Linked DNA regions of Homo sapiens: all the other regions are reported to be linked to region 2. The links are microRNA targets in miRTarBase. Many come from high-throughput screens and were not tested one by one. Region 2 holds a microRNA gene; each other region holds the end of a gene's coding sequence.

Evidence for each region. Region 2 holds the annotated microRNA hsa-miR-937-5p (GUGAGUCAGGGUGGGGCUGG, at 2,667-2,686, opposite strand). A microRNA usually pairs through its seed, bases 2 to 8, with sites in the 3' UTR of a target mRNA and lowers its output. Matches are read on the target gene's strand: a 7mer-m8 pairs with bases 2 to 8, a 7mer-A1 pairs with bases 2 to 7 and ends in A, and an 8mer does both.
Region 1: the mRNA of SEPHS1 is a reported target of hsa-miR-937-5p. The part of its 3' UTR that is shown has no 7-base or 8-base seed match.
Region 3: miRTarBase lists TMX4 as a target of hsa-miR-937-5p. Seed matches in the 3' UTR shown: 7mer-A1 at 5,720-5,726.

The regions. Positions count from the first base shown.
Region 1 is chr10:13,312,899-13,320,055 of GRCh38, reverse strand. It overlaps SEPHS1 (selenophosphate synthetase 1), which reads left to right. Exons shown (of 9, transcript NM_012247.5): 9 at 700-2,628. The coding sequence ends at 914. Among named protein-coding and RNA genes, the nearest start is that of PHYH, 16 kb to the right of the region's middle.
Region 2 is chr8:143,810,344-143,817,343 of GRCh38, forward strand. It overlaps MIR937 (microRNA 937), which reads right to left and starts at 2,699; the gene lies at 2,614-2,699. It overlaps SCRIB (scribble planar cell polarity protein), which reads right to left and starts at 5,430. Exons shown (of 37, transcript NM_182706.5): 1 at 4,871-5,430; 2 at 3,658-3,775; 3 at 3,475-3,553; 4 at 3,294-3,383; 5 at 3,127-3,183; 6 at 2,968-3,031; 7 at 2,687-2,761; 8 at 2,474-2,618; 9 at 1,923-2,041; 10 at 803-1,002; 11 at 563-729; 12 at 343-473; 13 at 136-261. The coding sequence starts at 5,029. PUF60 (poly(U) binding splicing factor 60) reads right to left here. Exons shown (of 12, transcript NM_078480.3): 10 at 6,988-7,000; 11 at 6,567-6,802; 12 at 6,001-6,476. The coding sequence ends at 6,177. RefSeq lists enhancers at 3,808-4,472, 4,757-5,389, 5,390-6,022.
Region 3 is chr20:7,975,746-7,982,902 of GRCh38, forward strand. It overlaps TMX4 (thioredoxin related transmembrane protein 4), which reads right to left. Exons shown (of 8, transcript NM_021156.4): 8 at 1,601-6,876. The coding sequence ends at 6,506. Among named protein-coding and RNA genes, the nearest start is that of HAO1, 39 kb to the left of the region's middle.

The DNA.
Region 1 (7,157 bases), not on the chromosome of region 2:
TTAAATTTTCTAAAAATACAAAAAAGCATTCTCGGTAAAATGAGAGAGTCGATGTAGAGAATCAAAAGTTCCCTTTTGTTTGTCAATATTTGTTTCAGTGTAGCTTGGAAAAAATAGCTACCACATGGGTTATTGAAGCCCCAAACACCTTACCCCTACACAGTGTTATGTGGTTCACGAATAGGTCATTTTCACAGTTGAAAGTTGGAGTGTATATGTGTGTGTGTTAGGAGTTTACTAGCAATTGCTTAATTACAGCATAGAACAGGCCTCTTAGGCTGGGAGTGGTGGTTCATTCCTGTAATCTCAGCACTTTGGGAGGCCAAGGCAGGTGGATTGCTTGAGTCCAGGAGTTTTAGACCAGCCTGGACAACACAGTGAAACCTTGTCTCTACAGAAAATTAGCCAGGTGTGGTGGTGCACACTTGTAATCACAGCTACTGGGAAAGCTGAAGTGGGAGGGTCACCTGAGCCAGGACATTGAGGCTGCAGTGAGCTGTGATTGTACCACTGCACTCCAGCTTGGGCCACAGAGTGAGACCCTGTCTCAAAAAAAAGCTGCTTAGTTGAATGGGAAGAGCTACTTGCATATAGGTGGCAGCAAGTTGTTGATGGAAGTTGGATCTCTGCAGAAGCAGCAGAGGCAGAGAAGCTGCTGTCATGTCAACACTAACAGTCATTCTTGTTTTCTTTTGCCAGGCGGCCTTCTGATCTGTTTACCACGTGAGCAAGCAGCTCGGTTCTGTGCAGAGATAAAGTCCCCCAAATATGGTGAAGGCCACCAAGCATGGATTATTGGGATTGTAGAGAAGGGCAACCGCACAGCCAGAATCATAGACAAACCCCGGATCATCGAGGTCGCACCACAAGTGGCCACTCAAAATGTGAATCCCACACCCGGGGCCACCTCTTAATCTAGACAGAAATAGCTGTTTGGTTTTGTTTTTAAATAGATCTATTTCCCTTATCACTTCAATTAAAGACTATAAACAACAAAAATCTCATTGTGTCTACACATCGGGGTGACCTTAGGTCGGTTTGTAAGTGGATACAATTAATAAAATAAAATCCATTGCCTTTTTTTCCTGTTACATTAACTGAAGATGCACCTAATCTTGAGGCAGCTTCTGAGTTGAGAATTATATTGTTATCCAATACTGTTGATTCATTTTGAATCTTTAGACACTTATCTCTTGCCGCATAGGCTTTTTAAAGGTGCTTTCACATAGCACAGGCATTACCCGTAGTCGTGTCAAATAGCAGTTGGTGTCTTCATTTTATGTATATTTATCATATAAGTCTGATTTTTTTTTTTAAGCGTCTTGAATGGTTTTCTGGAGAGACAGCATTGGTAAGTGGCACATGACGGTATCCCAGTCATAAGAGGGTTGCATGATTCCTTTGAGTGTTTGATTTGAAAAGCCTAGTCTTGTCTCTCAAGAGCATCTCGGACCCAGAACATTCTCCAGTAGTGCATTCAGTTCAACACAGCAAGTGCTTCATTGCATGGAAAACACTTTGAAGACAAAAAAGAAATCTTATTTCTTTTTTTGTAGCCTTCCTGATATTTACAGTAATACCATTAACTGTTTTATCGATAGCAAAAAAGGATACTTTTTGCAATGTTATTAGATGTTCTATAGTGCTACAAGGAATTGCCTTCCGAATGGAGGTTCATGTATAATACTCATTTACAATTCAATATATAATTACACAAATAATTTTTAAATATAATCAATAGTAAAGACTGTTCTGTGGATGGTAGTGTTTAATACATTTTCTATTTTGTACAGTGATTTCAGGCCTTTTGTTTTCTTAAAATCAGCAGCTGTTTGGCCTAATTCTTAGCATTATTTTGTCCTTTGCGCCAGTACTTTTTTGTGCACGCTTTTTGTGATCTGTGTTAAAAACCTGCATTGCCAACATTGCAGCTCGAACTTAAACTTGTTATTCAAATAAATATTTAATTTTTTAAATTGCTCTTGTATAATCAGATGCCCCTTTTAGTATTATTTTAGAAGCGTTGGGAGGGTTTTGCCTAAAGTACAATTTATCGGGAAAAACTAGATTTTAGTTTTATAAAACTTTTAAGTCTTTCATGGGACCTATATTTTCTTGAATTAAATTTTGTAGTTCTAGAATAAATAGGCAATCTAAAAAGGTGTTCTCTGTGTTATGTAAAGTGGAGGCTTCCTTATATTTTAACCTACTAAGCAATGAGGAGGGATTCCTGTCATTAAGCACAAGGGCGCTGGATCCTCAAGTGCCCATCTTCGTGAGAGAAAAAGCAGCACATCCTGCCCATTTCTGGTGCTTTCTGCTCACAGGCACCAAAGCTGCACATGTAAACTGACTTCTTGCCAAAGGAAATGACCCCTGGGAAGTTCAAGCTCCTGGAAGAGGCTTTAACTCGGACGCGCCCTCCTCCAGGAACCAGTGGGCAGGGCAGCCTTCATGCATGTGTAACTGGACCTCCAGCCATAAGCATGGTGTGCAGTATGGAAGAGCCTGCTACGGAACTGAAAGTGATTGGACATTTTATAGGAATTGATAGAGATGTTGGTCCTCAAAAGCTACAAACCAGTGGTCTGCAAAATAAAGTGTGTTGGAAACCTCTAGTGAGATAAACCTACTGTTGAGCTTTTTTTTTTTTTTTTTTTTAAATAACGATGACTGAACTTCAGTGTAGCCTGTGCCGTGAGAGCTGGTGTTTTCCTCAGTGGCAGGCCTATTGAGAGGAGGGAGCTAAGTGGAGTATGTACTTAAGGAAATAATATTTGTGAAGATTGATATTTATAAAGAGAAAATGTTGGGTACTTAGAGGTCCGTGTAAGTCTTATGATCCCAAGAGGAAGAATTTGTATTTAAAGCAGTGTTGGCTGGGCATGGTGGCTCACACCTGTAATATCAGCACTGTGGGAGGCCGAGGTGGGCAGATGACCAGAGGTCCAGAGTTCAAGACCAGACTTGCCAACATGGTGAAATCCTGTCTTTACTAAAAATACAAAAATTAGCTGGGTTTGGTGGCGCACACCTGTATTCCCAGCTACTGGGTAGGCTGAGGCACAAGAATCGCTTGAAGCCGGGAGATAGAAGTTGCAGTGAGCAACCTGCCATCACACCACTGCACTCCAGCTTGGGCGACAGAGACTCAGTCTCAAGAAACAGACTCAAGTCTCAACAAGCAAACAAAAACCAGTATTGTATAGTGGCCCAGATTCACCTGTGTTAGAATCACCCGGGGTGTTAGAAGGCAACATTCCTGCCCCTGATTTTCCAGATTCACAGAATCAGAATTTCTGGGGTGTGGGACTTTGGGAATATCTTAAATAAGGACCCTATGGGGCTATGGCCAAAAAAGTTTCAGAACCATGGGTGCAGCACACCAACATGGCACATGTATACATATGTAACAAACCTGCACGTTGTGCACATGTACCCTAAAACTTAAAGTATAATTTAAAAAAAAAACTGATCTCAAAAGGAATGTTGCAGAGGAAGGCAGGGAAAGTAAGAGGACCTGGTTTTGCAACTTTTTTTTTTTTTTTTTTTTTGAGGCGGAGTCTCTCTATCAGCCAGGCTGGAGTGCAGTGGTGCGATCTCAGCTCACTGCAACCTCTGTCTCCCAGGTTCCAGTGATTCTCCCGCCTCAGCCTCCCGAGTAGCTGGGATTACAGGCGCATGCCACCAAGCCTGACTGATTTTTGTATTTTTAGTAGAGACAGGGTTTTGCCATGTTGGTCTCGAACTGAGCTCAAACGATCCGCCTGCCTTGGCCTCCCAAAGTGCTGGGATCACAGGTGTGAGCCACCATGCCCAGCCTTTTGCAACATATTTTGCAGGAATTTTTTCCTCGACCATTCTCTTACCGACCATTCCGACCAAATCTTGACCATTCTGTTTACTTCCCACATCTGAGCTACGGCCCAGCAAGGCAGCAGAAAGACCTGTATTTTGAAAGCTCCACGAAGACTCAAATGATTGTCACTGAATATTGGAGTTCTTGGCAAAATCTATGTAGAACATTTTAAAAGTCAGTGGACAGGCCAGACATGGTGGCTCACGTCTATAATCCTAGCACTTTGGGAAGCTGAGACAGGAGGATCACTTGAGCACAGGAGTTCGAGACCAGCCTAAGCAACATAGTGAGACCTCGTCTCTACAAAAAATAAAATTTAAAAAGTGAGTGGAGAGTAAGTAGTCGATTTGACTTTCTGGTAGCACTTTAAAACTTCACACTGAAGTGTATTTATCTTGGTATACTGATTTGTTTTCTGTAAATCATATAGTATAGTTGCATCCAAAAATACAGTCTGTTAGAATGCATAGAATTAGTGAATACAACCTGAGGCAGCTGGATCATGGTGGAGTCAGTCATTCAGGCACTAGGAATAATCTGAAGGAATATTGAAGCTGCTTATTTGCACAGGCTGTGTTGAGGTATTTATTGTGTTTCAGTCCAAGAAAAATTGAAATATTGTATAAGCAATATGTACTTTTTGGCTCAGTCTTTAAAAATAGTAGATTATAGTCTTCCAAGTTCTGCATGCTTTATAATGAATAAATGTGTTTCAAATTGTTCTGTTTATAGATGAATGAGCCAGGCATTTTCAGTCTGAATTTAGCATTCCCTTTAAAAGAGTTATATCTGAGTTCTCAATCTTAGTTTTAATTGTATAGAGACCAGAATAGCTATACTGTGCTGCACTTTATTTTTAGGTAATAGAGCAAGCGTAGTCATCGACGCTTCAGATACCAGTCGTGTCCGTGTGTGTGTTTTTGTGTATATTTGTTTGTATATATCCTTGAGTTGCTCACTTCCACACCCAGCCCACCCTTTCCTCTAGCTTAGGCAGTGGTTGCATAGACAACATAATTTACTTTGAACAGTAATTTGTAAATTTTTCTCATTAAGAATCCGCATATGAATTATAGTCATTACATATGCCAAGGGGCACAGTGAAAATCACCAATGTCCTGTTAAAAGTGAAGCCTGGGAATATCCTGTTATCTATGCTGAAATCTCTGTGTCTTGAATGAGGATGGGAGTGGATGGATTACACAAGGTCTTCATTCGGTAAAGCAGTAGGTGAGACGGTGCTCCCATAGGCATCTAGACTGGTTCTGGAATTGCCTGGAATCCAAGCCTGCTGCCAATGCCAAATGCTTTGATTTGTCTGTGAATTCAGGGTAAGGAAGGTGCTGTAAGTTTCCCTACGTTTCACAGTCCTTAAATATGACATCCAGCACTGAACACACAGTTGATGCTTTCCATGGTTTTTGTCCTTTCTAAGTCCTGTTGCTTTCAGAGGGAGTTTTATGCTTAGGAGAAACTGCATGTAATGAAGCCTATCAAAGCTTCATAGAAACAGAAAAGACCATGTGCGGTGGCTCACGCCTGTAATCCCAGCACTTTGGGGGGCCGAGGTGGGCGGATCACCTGAAGTCAGAAGTTCGAGACCAGCCTCAACATGGAGAAACCCCATCTCTGCTAAAAAAAAAAAAAAAAAAAAAGAAAATACAAAATTAGCCAGGCATGGTGGTGCATGCCTGTAATCCCAGCTACTCGGGAGGCTGCGGCAGGAGAATTGCTTGAACCTGGGAGGCGGAGGTTGTGCCGAGCTGAGATTGCGCCATTGCACTCCAGCCTGGGCAACAAGAGCGAAACTCCGTCTCAAAACAAACAAACAAACAAACAAACAAACAAAAACAGAAAACTCACTCTATTAGTGATCTGATTGCAGAAAAGCCAGTGTGTTTTCTACTATTATATTTTTAGAACAAGCATAGGCCCGTAGAAAATTATAAGGGCCTGGCTGGGCACAGTGGCTCACGCCTGTCATCCCAGCACTTTGGGAGGCCGAGGCTGGCAGATCCCGAGGTCAGCAGTTCGAGACCAACCTTACCAACATGGTGAAACCCTGTCTGTACTAAAAATACAAAAATTATCCGGGTGTGGTGGTGCGCACCTATAATCCCAGCTACTCGGGAGGCTGGGGCAGGAGAATCGCTTGAACCCGGGAGCCAGAGGTTGCAGTGAGCCAAGATCGTGCCATTGCACTCCAGCATGGGTGACAGAGCGAGACTTTGTCTCAAAAAAAAAAAAACAGAAAAGAAAAAAACGAGGCCGGGCGCGGTGGCTCACGCTTGTAATCCCAGCACTCTGGGAGGCCGAGGCGGCGGATCACAAAGTCAGGAGATCGAGACCACGGTGAAACCCCGTCTCTACTAAAAATACAAAAAATTAGCCGGGCATGGTGGCGGGTGCCTGTAATCCCAGCTACTCGGAGAGGCTGAGGCAGGAGAATGGCTTGAACCTGGGAGGCGGAGCTTGCAGTGAGTCGAGATCGTGCCACTGCACTCCAGCCTGGGCGACAGAGCGAGACTCCATCTCAAAAAAAAAAAATTAAAACGGCCTATAAAATGTTAACGTTGATCATTACCCAGTATCCAGTCCTATATGTTGCTTAATTCTTTTTTTTTTTTTTTCTTTTTTTTTTTAGGCAGAGTCTCACTCTGTCACCCAGGCTGGAGTGCAGTGGCGTGATCTCCGCTCACTACAAGCTCCGCCTCCCAGGTTCAAGCCATTCTCCCGCCTCAGCCTCCCAAGTAGTTGGGATTACAGGCACCTCCCACCATGCCCGGCTAATTTTTGTATTTTTAGTAGAGATGGGGTTTCACCATGTTGGGCAGGCTGATCTCGAACTCCTGACCTCAAGTGATGGGGGTCACTCAGCCTCCCAAAGTGCCGGGATTACAGGCATGAGCCACCGCACCTGGCTGGCATATCTCTTTCTTACTACATCCAGGAAACGTTTCTCCATTTTCAGGACTCATGATTGCAGTGGGCTCACCCAGATAATACGGGGTGATCCCCCTATCAAAGTCCTTAACGTTAATCACATTTGGAAAATCCCTTTTGCCAGGTAAGGTAACAGCCACAGATTCCAGGGATTAGGGCGTGAACATCTTTGGGGAGGACCGTTATTCTCCCCACCACAAGGCCGTATACCCACGGGGTAGCTTCTTCACCAGGGGAGAGATTTTTGCAGCCATGAAGCAAAGCTGTTGCCTCAAACATGGTATTTTTAAAATCAGTGAACAAGAATTGCTTACACAGCCATACCAAGCGGGGGCCAGCAGGGTGGCAGGTCTGT
Region 2 (7,000 bases):
GAAACCTGTCACCAGCCTCATCTCCTGCTCCTTCTCTGTGCTGCCCTGGCCCTCACAGCCCCACTCCCAGGATGGACCGGACCACCACAGCTCCCGGGTCAGCGGCCCGCCAGGTTGCCGTGGCTCCATGCCCACCTCCTCTGCAGGCAAGGGCGACCCAGAGTCTGGCTGGCAAGGGCAGGCCTCGCTCCGCCGCCCCTCGATGCTCCTCTTCATCACCTTGAGCTCGCTGGGGTGAGGTGTGGCCCGGCGCTGTAGGCCCTGTTGTAGGGACAAGGATGAGCAGCAGCCACAGGGCAGGGGTCAGGCAGAGGTTCGCCCCCCAGATCCTCACCCTCATACCCGCTTCTCAGCTGCAGCTTCCTCAGCGTCCTCATCACCTATGGGGGCCTCCAGGAACTGGATGACGCTGACGCGGCTCGGCGGGGCATCGCTCCAGGTCTCCGAGAGGCTCCCCTGCTGCCCAGCATCCTCTGCAGCAGGTGAGCGTCAGGACCCAGGCTAGTCCCCAAACCCTGCCTGAGAGCCACCCCGCGCTAAGCACCGGTTGCCAACAACCTACCGAGGCTGGGTGGGGGCTGCTGGGGCAGCAAGTAGCAGGTGAGCACCTTCTCGCCGGTCCGGGCATCATCCTCCGTCTGGAACCGGAGCATGGGCTGCGCCTGGTTCTCTGCCAGCCACAGGGCCTTGAGATTGAGGTGGGTGAGCGCGAACGGCAGACTCTGCAGGCTGCGGGCCGGGCGGGCACAGTCAGCAGGCGTTGGGGCCACGGTTAGGCCCGCAGGGCAAGGCTGGCACTCACCGGTTCCCCGCCACGTCCAGCACGTGCAGCTCTGTCGTGTGGGCCAGCTCTGGTGGCAGGACGGCCAGGCGGTTGTCCCTCAAGGAGAGGACGCTGAGTGCCACACAGCCCCCGATCTCGGGCGGCAGCGCCTCGAGGTGGTTCCGGTCCACGTTGAGGTTGGTCAGCTTAGTCAGCTTTCCCAGGGAGCGGGGCAGGGCCTGGCCAAGAAGAGGAGGTCAGAGGACGCTAGGGGCTTGCTGGGGGTGGGAAGGAGATGACAGCCCCTGGCAGGAGGGCACAGACACCCCAGGCCAGCTCCAGCCAGGGTCCCTCACAGCCCCTGGAGACCGGGACAAGGACCTGACCACAGAAGCTGTCTCCACCCCACTTCGTGCCCTCTGCTCCCCAAGCTCTGCCCACTGCCCTCAGCCTTCAGTCCCCACCACCAAAACACCCCACCAGGTCATCCCTGACCCTCTCCCATGGGTGCCCTGGACTGACCTGCGAGGCTGCGCCCTGTGAGCCTGTCTGGTGCCCCACTGGTCTGCCCTGTCATCCCTAGGGCTCCCCAGGCCCCCAGTTCCAGCCTGCCTGCTCAGGGCCAGCCCCTTCCCAGGGCCCTGAACCCCAGAGTCCCTTTCTCCATCTCCCCAGTGAGGAACCCCCCCGGAAACTCCCATGAACACCCTCCCCACAGCTAGCTCCTGTTTCCCAGCCTGGGGATGGGGATAGCAACACCACCGTCCCGAACCGTGGCCTGGTGCCTCAGCTTGCCCTGCTTTGTGAGGGGCAGGCAGACGCCCCTGGGGAGCAGCCTGCTCTCCATCTGTCTTCCCTACAGACAAATAAGTTCCCATTCCTGCCTCTTCTGTAACCGCTCCCCAGTGTTACAACATACAGCGATAAACACGAGACCTAGATTCTTCACGGTAAACGGCAAAGGCCCCTGCCCTGGCCTCACTGCCCCGCCTCACCTCCGGCCAGCATGCTCCCCCTCTGACAAGAGAAGAGCCCTTCCTGAGTGGCTCCACGTCAGGCTGCCACCAGCACCCCCCAGCAGCAGACACAGGCTGATGCCCTGTCCTTGTTCTGCACCCCCGACGGCCCCATCCTTTCTGCCTCCCAAGCCAGACCCTACCATCAGCAGGTTCTCCGTGAGGATCAGCTCAGAGAGGTTCTCACAGTCCCCGATGGCCTCGGTCACCTCGCACAGCCGATTCTGGTCTACCTTTAGGATGGATAGCTGCTTCAGCTGACCTGGCGTCGGGGAGACAGGGGGACAAGGCTGAGCATGGTCCCCAGACGTGCCTTACCCACCTGGCCAGAAGCGCCCTCAAGGCAGACAGCAAGGCCCCCAGCCCCTTCTGCCGCCGCCGTACTTCGGGAGGACCCTACCTACCTTGCCCCACAAGCCTGACCCAACCTCCTTCAAGAAAACACCAGGCCCCAGTGGCACTGCCACCCTTCCGCCCTCACAGACTCCACCGCCCCCTCCAGCACCACCAGCTGCCTCCTCAGCCTTCTGGGCTGCCCCAGGGTCCCACCTCCCCTCCCCAGGGACAGCTCCCAGAGCCTGGGCACACTCAGGATCCTCCCCTGTGTTCCACACCACACACAGCCCCGACGCCCCACGCTCCTCCCAGGGCCAGGCTCCGTGTGCCCCACCCAGGCACCCCCAGGCACACTAACCGATGCCGTCGGGCAGCCTCCGCAGCAGGTTCTGGGACAGCAGCAGGTCAGTGAGCAGCACCAGCCCGCCGAGCTCAGCAGGCAGCTCCTCCAGCCGGTTTTCCGACACGTCCAGGCACACCAGGCGCCGCAGGTTCCCGAGCTCCTGCAGGTGGGCAGAGAGTCAGAGCGCGGATGGGCACGAAGCAGGGGGCCAGCCCCACCCTGACTCACCGGGGGCAGTGCTGACAGCTGGTTCCGGTCAAGCCACAGCTCCCGAAGATTGGGCAGAGCCCCCAGAGTGTCTGGCTGCAAGAAGGAACAGAGAAAATAGTGACTATGAGGCAAAGCCTCCTGCTGCGCCGTGCTCAAGAGACTATACGCCCCCACACCCAGCTCCCACCCGCCTGCCCTCCCGAGGTGCCCCTTGCTGTCGGATCTGCTCGCTGTCCCCTTCTTTGCCCTTGCTTCCGTGGCCCGCCCTCCGGTCTCTGCCCTGTCAGGCCTCCACGCACCAGCACTTCCAGATCGTTGCCTCCCAGATCCAGCTGTTCCAGCTTGACCAGAAATGACAGGGACCTGCAGAGGAAGCAGGGTGGAGGTGTGGCCACGCAGCCCTGGTCCCTGGGCTGTGGCCCTGCCCTGGCTGTTAGGAGAATGCCTGTCACACTCACGCTGGCAGGGACTTGAGCAGGTTCTCCCGGAGCTCCAGGGTCACCAGGTTGGCGAGGCTGAAAGAGAGACCAGGCGCTGGGGCAAGAGGAAGGAAAGCAGTGGCAGCAGGGGCAGGGCCAATCCTGGTCCCCCACCCCACCCTAGTTCCACCTGAGAAGGCACTCACTTGCCCACGTCCCCGGGCAGTGCCTGCAGAGACACATCATTCAGGGCCAGGTGAGCCAGGCTGCGCAGCTGAGTGAAGCCATCAGGGAGCCTGGATGGGAGGAAGCAGAGGCCCTCGGATGACCAGTCCAGGGCTGTGGGACCCATAGCCCCTACCGACCCCACCACAGGCTGCCACCCACCTGGAGAGGGGGTTCCCGCTGAAGTCCGCGATCTCCAGAGCCTTGCAGAACTTGATGCTCTCCGGGATCTCAGGGATATCTGTCACAGAGGGTCACAGTGGACAGATGCCATGGCCTGCAGGCCGTCTGCAGCCCCAGCGGACACTCCCCAGACCCCACCCAGCCCCTGCCCAGGCTCCCCACCGTTCCGGGACACGTCCAGCTCCACCAGCTGCATGAAGTTGGCCACCTCGGGAGGCAACCGCTGGATCTCGTTGTCGCTCAGGCCCAGCTTGCGCAAGTTCAGCAGCCGGAAAAAAGGCTGTGGGCAGGGAGGACACGGACTCTGTGGCAGAGACCACTGCAGAGCAGAGAAGAGCTCCTGGACACGTGAGTGTCACAAGTCAAGAGTCCCTAGGCCTCTGTCTGCTCCAGGTCACACCGGGTCCTGGGGTCTAACCACGACACCCCATTTGCAAAAAAAGGAAAGAAACACACGGTACACACGCCCACTGTGGCTGCCTCCCTCTACTCTTCACACCAGCCTCCACTCTGAGAAGACACCTGCTGGCGACCAGACAAAGCCCCAATCCCCTACCCTGTGTCTTACCTCAGGGCCCACCCAGCCCCTGAACCACTTCTGCCACCCTCCAGGGGCCCACACTGGCCTCTGCTACTGCATCCTGACAACAAGCCTGGCCTGGTTCTGCAGCAAGAACTCAGTAAACGCTCCCCACAATAACACAGTACCACAGGCACAGTGCTACGCGCGAGGCCTGCAGGTGGCCACAGAGGACCGAGCTGTCACTGCCACGGCCAGAACAGGGTCACATTCTTTGGGACACCCAACCCCTAGGTACTGATCACCCAGCACCCCATCTCCAGAAAAGAAATACTTTTTAATCTGCTTTCTCCAGCCTCCTTTCTTGTAGCAGCCTTAGGAGAGCACCTGACCACGAGAAGCAAGGGTAAAGAAAGGGGGACAGCGAACAGATCCGAGAGCAAAGAGTACATCAAGAGGGCTCCCCCACTCACCCCTGCACCCAGCAAAAAAGGAGAGGAGGTCTGGACCCACCTCCAGAGCGGCCCAAGAAGCTAGTACTCATCAGCCACCTGAATCCAAGTTCCACCCTAACCCCATCCACCTCCCTGAATCCCCACGGGTTTCACTCTGAGGCTCCGCCTCCAGGCTCGGTGACAATCGCTATCCCCAGGCAAGCACCTGATGACCGCTGCCACCTGCGCCAGCCAGGGCGGCTGGAAGAGAAGGGTGGGGCTGGCTGGGGTGGGGACCTGGCCAGTGCAAACCAGCAGGGCCGGCTGGAGGCTGCGGTGACTCGCCCGGGCAGATTCTGCCGCCGGAGGAATCACGGGCTGGGGGCGCGCCTTTGGGCGGCAGGTGCGGGCGGCCGCTCACCTTGGGCAGCTCGCGCAGCTGGTTGGCGTCGAGCAGCAGCTCCTCCAGGCTGCGGCTGTAGCGGTAGATCTCCTCCGGCACGGCCTGCAGCGAACAGTGCCGCTTGTCCACCGACTCCACGTGCCGGTTGCAGCGCCACAGCGGGATGCACTTGAGCATGGTGCGGGTGGGCGGCGCGGGCTCCGGCGGCGGCGCTCGGCGGGCTCGGGGCCGGGGGGCGGGGCTCAGTCCGCATGGGCGCCGCGCATGGGGAGGGGGCGCAGGCAGGGGGCGGGCCGCCCGAGACTGGACGGGGACGCGGCCGCGGCCGGCGCTGGGCCCGGCCCGCGCTCGGAACGCTCGGACTGCGGGCCTGGGCAGGGGGCGCGGCCCGGCGGGTCTCAGACTCTTAGGAAGCGCGGGGAGCGGCGGCGGCGGCGGCTCCGCATCCCGCTTGGTCCTGCTCAGCTCGTCCCGCCCGCTCGTCCGCCCGCTGTGCCGCACCGGAACCGCCGCTGCCCGCCGGACTGCCCCGCCGACACCCACCCGGCCGCCGCGCAGCCCGTCGGGAAGCCGAGTCCGGCCCTCGCCGCCTAGCACGCCCGGACTGCGGCCCCCAGAAGGCCCCGCGCGCCGCCGCCTCTGAGGACCCGTAGCGGCACCGCGCAAAGCGTGCCGGGAAGCCGGGCCCGCCCCGCGCGCGGGATATTGGGAGCTACAATCCACGAGAGGCGGCGCCCTCCGCCCTCCGGTCTTCAGCCCGGCCCCTGGCCCCGCGGCATTTGGCCACGAATCTTAACGCACAGCCTCCTCCCGGGAAGCGACCATGCCCGCCCGCCCGCCTTGGACGGCCGGCTCTGCGGCACAAAAGCACTGGCAGCGCGCGCTGTCCAGCGGGTCGCGGTGTCCCGGTGCCCAGCCTTCTCTCAGCACCACCCTGCGGGGACGGCTGCGAGCCCGCGCGCGAGAGCCTGGCGCCCCAGGCAGCCCCGCCCACCCAGCCGCCGCCACCCGCGGGACGGGGCCCGGGGCGCCAACCCCCTGCCCAGGTCTCGCCCACGGCAGGCCCCTCCTGCCAACAGGAAGCAGGTCCAGAGACCCCCCCAACCCTGCCTCCTCGCCCTAGACCCCCTAAGGACACACGCCCAGGATCGGTGACAGGACCGACGGCAGACACACGGACGTTCAGGGCCAGCAGCATCCGCACCTTTATCCGCACTGTAGGCTGGGCTGGGCAGAGCGCGCCTGGCCCCGGGGACACCACTGTATCACTATAAAACCCAGAGGAAACAAGGAACAAGTGCAAGTCCGGGGAGAGGGACCACTGTCACGCAGAGAGGTCACTGTTATCAAAACGCTCCTGGTCGTACACTTCAGCCACCACCTTGCGGCCAGCAAACCAGCGGCCATTGAGGGCCTGGATGGCCTTATGAGTCTCAGAGGCTATGGAAAACTCCACAAAGATCTTGACAATGATTTCTGCATCCTCCTCCTCGCCTTGTTTCTCTTGGTAGATGATGACGCGGTTCACGGCCCCGAACTTGCCACACTCCTCTGTCACCTCCCCTTCCAGGTCATCATCGATGTCCTTGGGGTCCACCATGTTGCGCAGAACCATCACTGTAGACTGTGGGGCAGGGCCGAGGGGAAGACAGCTGAGCACTGCGGCCCCGCCCCCCTACCCTCTCCCCCGCCACCACCCTGCCCCTCTGCCTACCTCCTGCTTGCGGAGCAGCTTCTGCATCACCATGTGTCGGGCGCTACTGCCCGAGATGCTCATGTGCTCCTGCTCGCTCAGCATCTCTGGCCGCTCTGACTCGGGAAACAGCTCCTCTTCTTCCTTCTCCTTCTTGGGCTCCAGGAGACCCAGCGTTGGAGGGCTGGCCAGGATGGGGTTCACCACTCCCACCGAGGGGATGGTGACCGGGATAGGAGGACGGGCTGGGGTCACACCTGCAGGAAAACCAACCAGGTCCATCAGTCACTCCCTACCACCCCCCTTCCCAGAAAGGCACAGAGCTGGCCTGCCCTGGGCTCAGAGGGTTGTGCCCAGACCACCAGGGCCAGGCAGCTGAGGGCAGCGAGCCGAGAGATGCCAGGACAGGAGAGGAGAGGATCTGGTACCACTTAAGACTCACCTGTGATGACTCC
Region 3 (7,157 bases), not on the chromosome of region 2:
CCATGAAATGACAATTCTCAGTTTGAAAACTCTGGTACCTTGAAGAGCCACAGTGGTCAAGTCCAGCAGGAAGACCTCCAGCACTGGGGCCATATGTACTCTGCCCTCTCCTGCCATATGTGCATTCATACTATGTCCCAGGAGCTTACTCTATAGAAGGTCCTAGGCTCACAAAGGTGGGCAAGAAAAAGTCACTGTGGCAAGAGATTGCTAGCTCTCAAGTTCCCTTTGTTCTTAAGCACACAGCAAGATTACACATCCTAGTCTTCCTTTAAGTTAGGTATGACCCTGTGACTAAGTCCTCTCACAGGAAATGTGAACATAAATGATGCACGTGTGGCAGCCTCGCTTTAAAATCTCTCAGCAATGTTCCTCCATCTCTTACTCCTCTGACTGACTGGGATGGAAATGATCACAGCCACCTTAGCAGCCACGTTTTTTTGGTTGTTTGTTTTGAGATGGAGTCTCGCACTGTTGCCAAGGCTGGAGTGCAAAGGCATGATCTCGGCTCACTGTAATCTCTGCCTCCCGAGTTCAATTAATTCTCCTGCCTCAGCCTCCTGAGTAGCTGGGATTATACGCACCTGCCATTACGCCTGGCTTATTTTTGTATTTTTAGTAGAGACAGGGTTTCGCCATGTTACTAAGGCTGGTCTCAAACTCTTGATCTCAGGTGATCCACCTCCCTCGGCCTCCCAAAGTGCTGGGATTACAGGCGTGAGCCACCATGCCCGGCCCAGCAGCCACATGTTAAACAGCAAAGCCTCCCTTGACCTTGAGGCCCAGAAAAACCTGCATGGGACAGAGCCTGCCTGGGATGCCTGGCCTGGGCTATGTGAATCAGTAATACAATTCTTGTTCTTAAAGCCCCCGAGATTTGCGGGTCTGTTAGCACAGGCTGGACTGTCGTAATACAGTTATCAATCTCAAGAAGCTCACATGTTCCAAGAAAGAATTTCTATTACTGTGAAATATGTTCCAAAGAGCATTCAAGACTAGAGCAAAGCAGGGGGTTAAATTTGTAATTCAGTGTTGTTGGCTTGAAAGCTGCATTTTGCTATAGGCAAGGATGAATAACCAAAGTCATCTAGGCAGACAGCACGACAGACATTTTTCTCTGTATAGGCAAATAAGCATTCTGAGCCAGTATCTCTGAGGGAGGGCCTTGGTGGTATGCAGGTTTAGTAACTGTCTTCTCACTACACACATCCCCCACCATCTTCCAAAAGACAAAAATCCAATCTCCATTGTTTCAGTCTCTGAGGGTGTTTCAAGGACCCACCTTACCACCTTGATGCTTTTCCACTATAGTGGTGGGGAGAGTTAGGTGTAGAAGGGAGTTTTCTGAAAGCCCCAAAGACAAGACCAATCCACAGTGTCTTGGGGGATTAGTAGCATCCCTTGCCATCTGGCTACCCCAAGACCTCAGGACAGAGGGAGACCCCAGAGGTTTCTGATGGCAACACACTGGCTGGAAGAGCCTTGGATCTTTGGACCCTGCCTTGGTTTTGTGCACTTTCCAGAGCAACTAAAGGGCACATGGTCTGAGTTTCACCGAGTCAGGAAGGGAGAAAGAGAGAGAATGAATGAACAGACTAGATGGAGGATGGACACGAAGGAAAATTTTTTTTAACAAATTAATATTTTTTGCTGCCTAGGCAAATGGCTTTTGTGAAAACACTTGTATGAAAAGCAATACACCATTTGTTTTTACTTACCAATCACTATCATTAGGTTTTGATGCAAATGGGAATTTACAATAAAATGAAACAAATAGGATCAGGGATTATATACAATACTGTGATCAAGTGATTTGTGATTCAGGCAATGTACTACTTGAAACACATATCTGGATTTCTCATTCCAATTGCTGCAGATGCTATTTGAGGAAGCAAAGAATACAGAAAGAAAAATAATTAGGTTCATTAGGCTAAGACTAATACCAGTAATATAAACAACAAATTTATAACATATTGCATTGCAAATAAGCAATGTTTTTAGTATAAAAATTGCATTTCCACAAAGAAGCTAATAACAAATACGATTAAACCACTTCAGAAACACGTCAAAGTTGTACGAGTCACACATATACAGTGTCACAGTCTACATAAAGCTTTACTGAGAATAAGCCATCTGAAGGGCATGTCCCGGGCTGAAGCGATCAAAGGGCTTTTCAACTGAAGTTCTTACTTCCAGAAAGCTGTTCAAAAAGCTGCCCCATCAGGTTCAGCAGGCTTGATGACTCCAAATTTGGCTTTTTAAGACAAGCTAAAATCTCCTCCAGAGAATCAAAATGTAGGACTGAGGTAAAGAGATATTAAACAAGAAGGAACTTTTCTGTTGGCATAAGAGATTTGAATGAATTCTTTCGAAAATGTTGGTACATTTGACAGGATGGGTCAACCACATATTCATAATACTGACAGAAATAACACTGTAACACCAAGATGAGGGACACAGATAACCTATTGATACGAGCAACAGAACCAGCCTCCCTCTTCTTTCTCTCACTTCATACTAAAGATTTTATGCTGAAATCTCAGGTTTGCCGTAACTTTTCCACCTTTTTTTAAAATTTATTTTTCTCTGGACTTCTAATGTTTCCATCCTATGAAACAACATACCAGCTCCACTACTGATGCATTTGGTAATAAAAAGTCACATGGTAAGTATTTGCCTTAAAAATGACTTTTATCGTCTACCCCAAAGGTGTTTTTACAGGATGCAGGTTCTGTAGACTGACATATTCCCAAATCATATTAGAACATCACAGCTGTCAACAAGGAATTTTGGCCATAAAAAGTCAAATTTTGTTTTTTTTCCACTATCAAAAGCCAACTCAGCTGAAGCTTATCTATTTTCTACTACAGTAGTTATTTTGAATGTATAGAGCTAAAGAGGCCTGTGGCTAACAGACAGGGATTCCATGCACAAGAGCTTTTAAGTATGTGCCCATGCAGTGCAAGGCCCTGTGAACCCAACAGGCCCTGTCCCTCATCCCATCCAATGACTATACTTCAAAGGGAAAGAAAGATGTGGATTGCCTGTATGTTGCTTCAATATGAGATCTCTGAGCAAGCTGGGTTGGTTTAGCAGATCTAGCAAGAGACAAATAATAAGAGAAACCAACATAAAGGTAATCAGAAGTTTCAAACTTTCCTTCTAATTGATGAAAAGATACCCTGCTCCAACTCCCCAAACATAAAGCACTGCACATTCCCATTCCAAAACCAGTTACCTGCATTGCATTCACCTAATTTTAATTTACATAAAATACCATTCTGTGACTAAATAACTGATACTGCAATAGAGGGAAGCATGATTTTAATTTTTTTTTTTTTTAGATTTTAAAAATCAAAATCATGTTTCCATGCACTTGAGTTCCGGATCAAATATATTATCTACAGAAAAAATCCACAAACTCTTATCGAAATGTTCATATAAAGTTTAAATTATTTCAGGTTGGCTTTTCTCCTTTAGTTTTATATTCATTAAGTATTGAAAACAAACCTAAAATCTTCAAGTGGAAAGATATTAAATTAAATTTTGTTGGAAAAAAACCCATCTTTGCCATGATGTTAAAAAAGGGAAAATCAGGAAAAATGGTTCCCACAGATATTTAAAGTTTTAATGGGTCCTCTTCTCCAAGATGTTTTTCTCCTCACCCTTCAATTTTTTTTAAAAGTATTTCTGAGAAAGAAAGTACATTTTCTGCCAGGTACGGTGGCTCACACCTGTAATCCCAGCACGTTGGGAGGCTGAGGCGGGCGGATCACCTGAGGTCAGGAGTTCAAGACCAGTCTGACCAACATGGCGAAACCCCGTCTCTACTAAAAATACAAAATTAGCCAGGCATGGTGGCACATGCCTGTAATCCCAGCTACCTGGGAGGCTGAGGCAGGAGAATCCCTTGAACTAGGGAGGCGGAGGTTGTAGTAAGCCAAGATTGTGCCATTGCAGCCTGGGCGACAACAAGAGTGAAACTCCATCTCAAAAAAAAAAAAAAAAGAAAATACATTTTTCTTATTATATAATTAGATATAGGTCAAATATCCCTTATCCAAAATGTGTGGGACCAGAAGTGTTTCAAATGTTTTTGGATTTGGGGATTTTTGTATATATATAATGAGGTATCTTGGGAGTAGACCCAAGTCTAAACACAAAATTCATTTGTTTTATATACACCTTATACAACATAGCTTGAAGGTAATTTTATCCAATATTTTTAATAATCTTGGGCATGGAACAAAGTTTTGATTGCACTGTAACTGCCACCTGTCAAATGAGGTCAGGTGTAAAATTTTCCACTTCTGACGGAATGCTGGAACTCAAAGTTTAAGATTTTGGAGCATTTGGGGTTTTGGATTGTTGGAACGGAATGTTCAACCTGTACTATTTGGGGTCCGGTTGGAAATTGGCTTTACATTTTTAAAAGCCAGTGTAGACTGTATTTCTGCCTTACCTTCTCTCTAGTCAAATACTCCACTAAAAAAATGAATATTTCAGTTTGAGAGGGAGGAATTATATAGAAAAGCCAAACTATGAAACCATTCTTATTCCATAATACCTCTGAACCTGAGTTTACTGTTCTTTGAGAACTCTGTTTCAGCTGATTATAAGAGAAAGAAATCCAGTGACACGAGGGCAGGCAGGCCCCGCTCTGCTCTGATCGAGAAAAGCTTCCTGATGTCAGGGAGATGGAACTGCCACCATCAGAACCATGGCACTTTGGGTGAAGGTGTGTCAGCGACCAAGGGGGCAGGAAATGGGCAGTGACTAAGGGGGCAGGAAACAGGCAGGCACATGGCAAGGTTCTCCCAGCCCATCAGCCCAGTGATGGCCTCGATTTTGAAGCTGCACTACTGTCTGAAAAGCACAATTACTGGTGACTCTTAACAAACTTCAGCATACTGGGGAAGGAGACTGTCAAGTAACTGAATTGGAAAGATGAAAAAGAACCATCTCTAAAAGTTGATGCTGTCAGAAGAATAACCTCCTTTGTGCAAGTCTTGCAACATCTTCATTCAACCACAGGAGGGCAGAGAGTTTCAGAACCTCCCCCACCAGTGAGCTCCGTGCTCACAATTAATACAAGGAAAGGGTTATCTAAACAGCCAGATAGAAATATACTGCACGTTCCTTTTTAAAGACGACAGAAACTTTTAGAATTTCATAAACCTGTACTCATTATTCTGTCTGGATCTAAGGAGCATAGAATCAACTTTAGGCATCTTTCGTATGCTTGGAATCGAATTTCATGAATTTATTCTAACACATAAATCAGGTAAGAGAGAAGTAGATGGATAGATTTTTTTTTTTTAAGGAAATTAGCCTCCCTGGGTACTTACAGTAGATTGAGTATTGAGAGATTTACAAAGATATAATTCTTTGGAAGATTACAGAAGATGGAAACAAAATCAAATCTTTCACTTTCAGGTACTGGAGTTCATTAATTCTTTCACCAAAAGCACATCACTGAAGGAAAATCAGAAGTGGTTTTTTAGTTATTATTAAAGTAGTTCAAGACCCAGGGAACCCCTTGAGATGAAAACAAAACAGTATTCAACTTTTCTTCACAAGACTACCTTGTACTGGCAAGACTTAGAGGACTTCTGGCTTGAAAAATATTGCTTAGAAAACTTAAAAAAAAATCAACAACAACTATATTTTGGACAAAACAATTTTTTTTTAATCTGTCTTGTAAAATCCTTACTTCCTTTTGAGTCTCTGATGGCCACAACATTTCATTTGAGATGTTTGGCAGTCACAGCTTCAGGGGTTATGGTTACTGATTATCTAAACCCCTTAGGTCAGAATGAACAAACACAGTTCATGTAAACCTGGCTGTTATTGGAGTCCTCTGACCAAGAGATAATAGTGAAGAGTGTGGAGAGCCTGAATGCCCATGGTGGAAATGCTGGAAAAATTAAAGGTAAGAAATAAAACATAGCACAGGAGATTCAGAGGGCTGGGATGACTTCTGAGCTGCTCTCTATACCCAAGGCCCTTTCAATTTCTAGCTGTGAAAGATTTTTCATGCACTGTGGTGCCTGATGTTTCCTGCAATTTGACAAAAATAAATACTTTACACAAGAAAAGGATGCAAGGCTTCTACGTTACACTTTGGGGATGCTCAGGAGCCAAGGCTCCTGCTTGGCTTTCATTTCACAGGGCCTGCAGCCTTGTCTCTGGAAGGTGCTGATTAGGACTGGGAATGGCCTCCTCTGGTCGAGACTCTCTGACCCCTAAGTAAATGAACTTGTTCCCATCCCAGTCTCCAAACAGATCCCAACACTACGTTTGTTTTTCTATATCCTGATTGTCACACCTGGAAGACTCTCCTTAGTATACATGAGGCTTACTGCCATGAGACCAAATGACTAGAGAGCATCTTTTAAGAGAAGCTTGCTCATTCAGGAAAAATTAAGGATTTGGTACAAACTGCAGGCCAAAGGGAAGCTGACATATTGTTTTGGTGTGTATTCTTGAAAACGCATCATTAAATCTACAGTCCCTTGTCAGCATGCTGACTTTTACGCTGCCTCAAGGAGTCTTCCACCACCTCTGTGTCAGCTGGGCAGGGTTGCTCAGAGATGCCTTCTTCAGCCTCCTCAGGCTCTACTTCCTCCCGGGTCACACCGTCCTCTCCTGGGGGCCCCTGATCATTGGCCTCACTTCTCTCCTCATCCACACCAGCAGCCAAGTTGTCCTCCTCCTCTTCTTCCTCTGCTTCATCCTCATCGCCAAGATCTTCTTTCTCTTCTTCATCATCTACAAGGCTGTCTTTGTTTTCTTCTTCATTTGAATCATCTTTTTCCTCCTCCGCATCCTGCAACTGTTCAGCTCTATGAGCCTCCTCTGATCTCCGATTCTGCTCTATGGAGGGAAGAAAGAGGAATATCCTCTGAATAAACAATGGTAATTCGGTAATCAATTGAGTGTGTTTAGCTGTGAAATAAAAATAGAGGGTAAGTGACAGTTTTTTCTATCTTGAAACTATGGTCATATAGGACAGATTCTCTGGTTGGCATCCTAGCCCCATTTAGGGCTTCTCCACCTGTCTCTGGAGATTTCATGGACCATAATGACTTCAGCAGGGCATGTGGGCAGCAAGGGCAAAGGGTCCTTTACGCTCGGTATTTTGTGTCTTGTAGAAA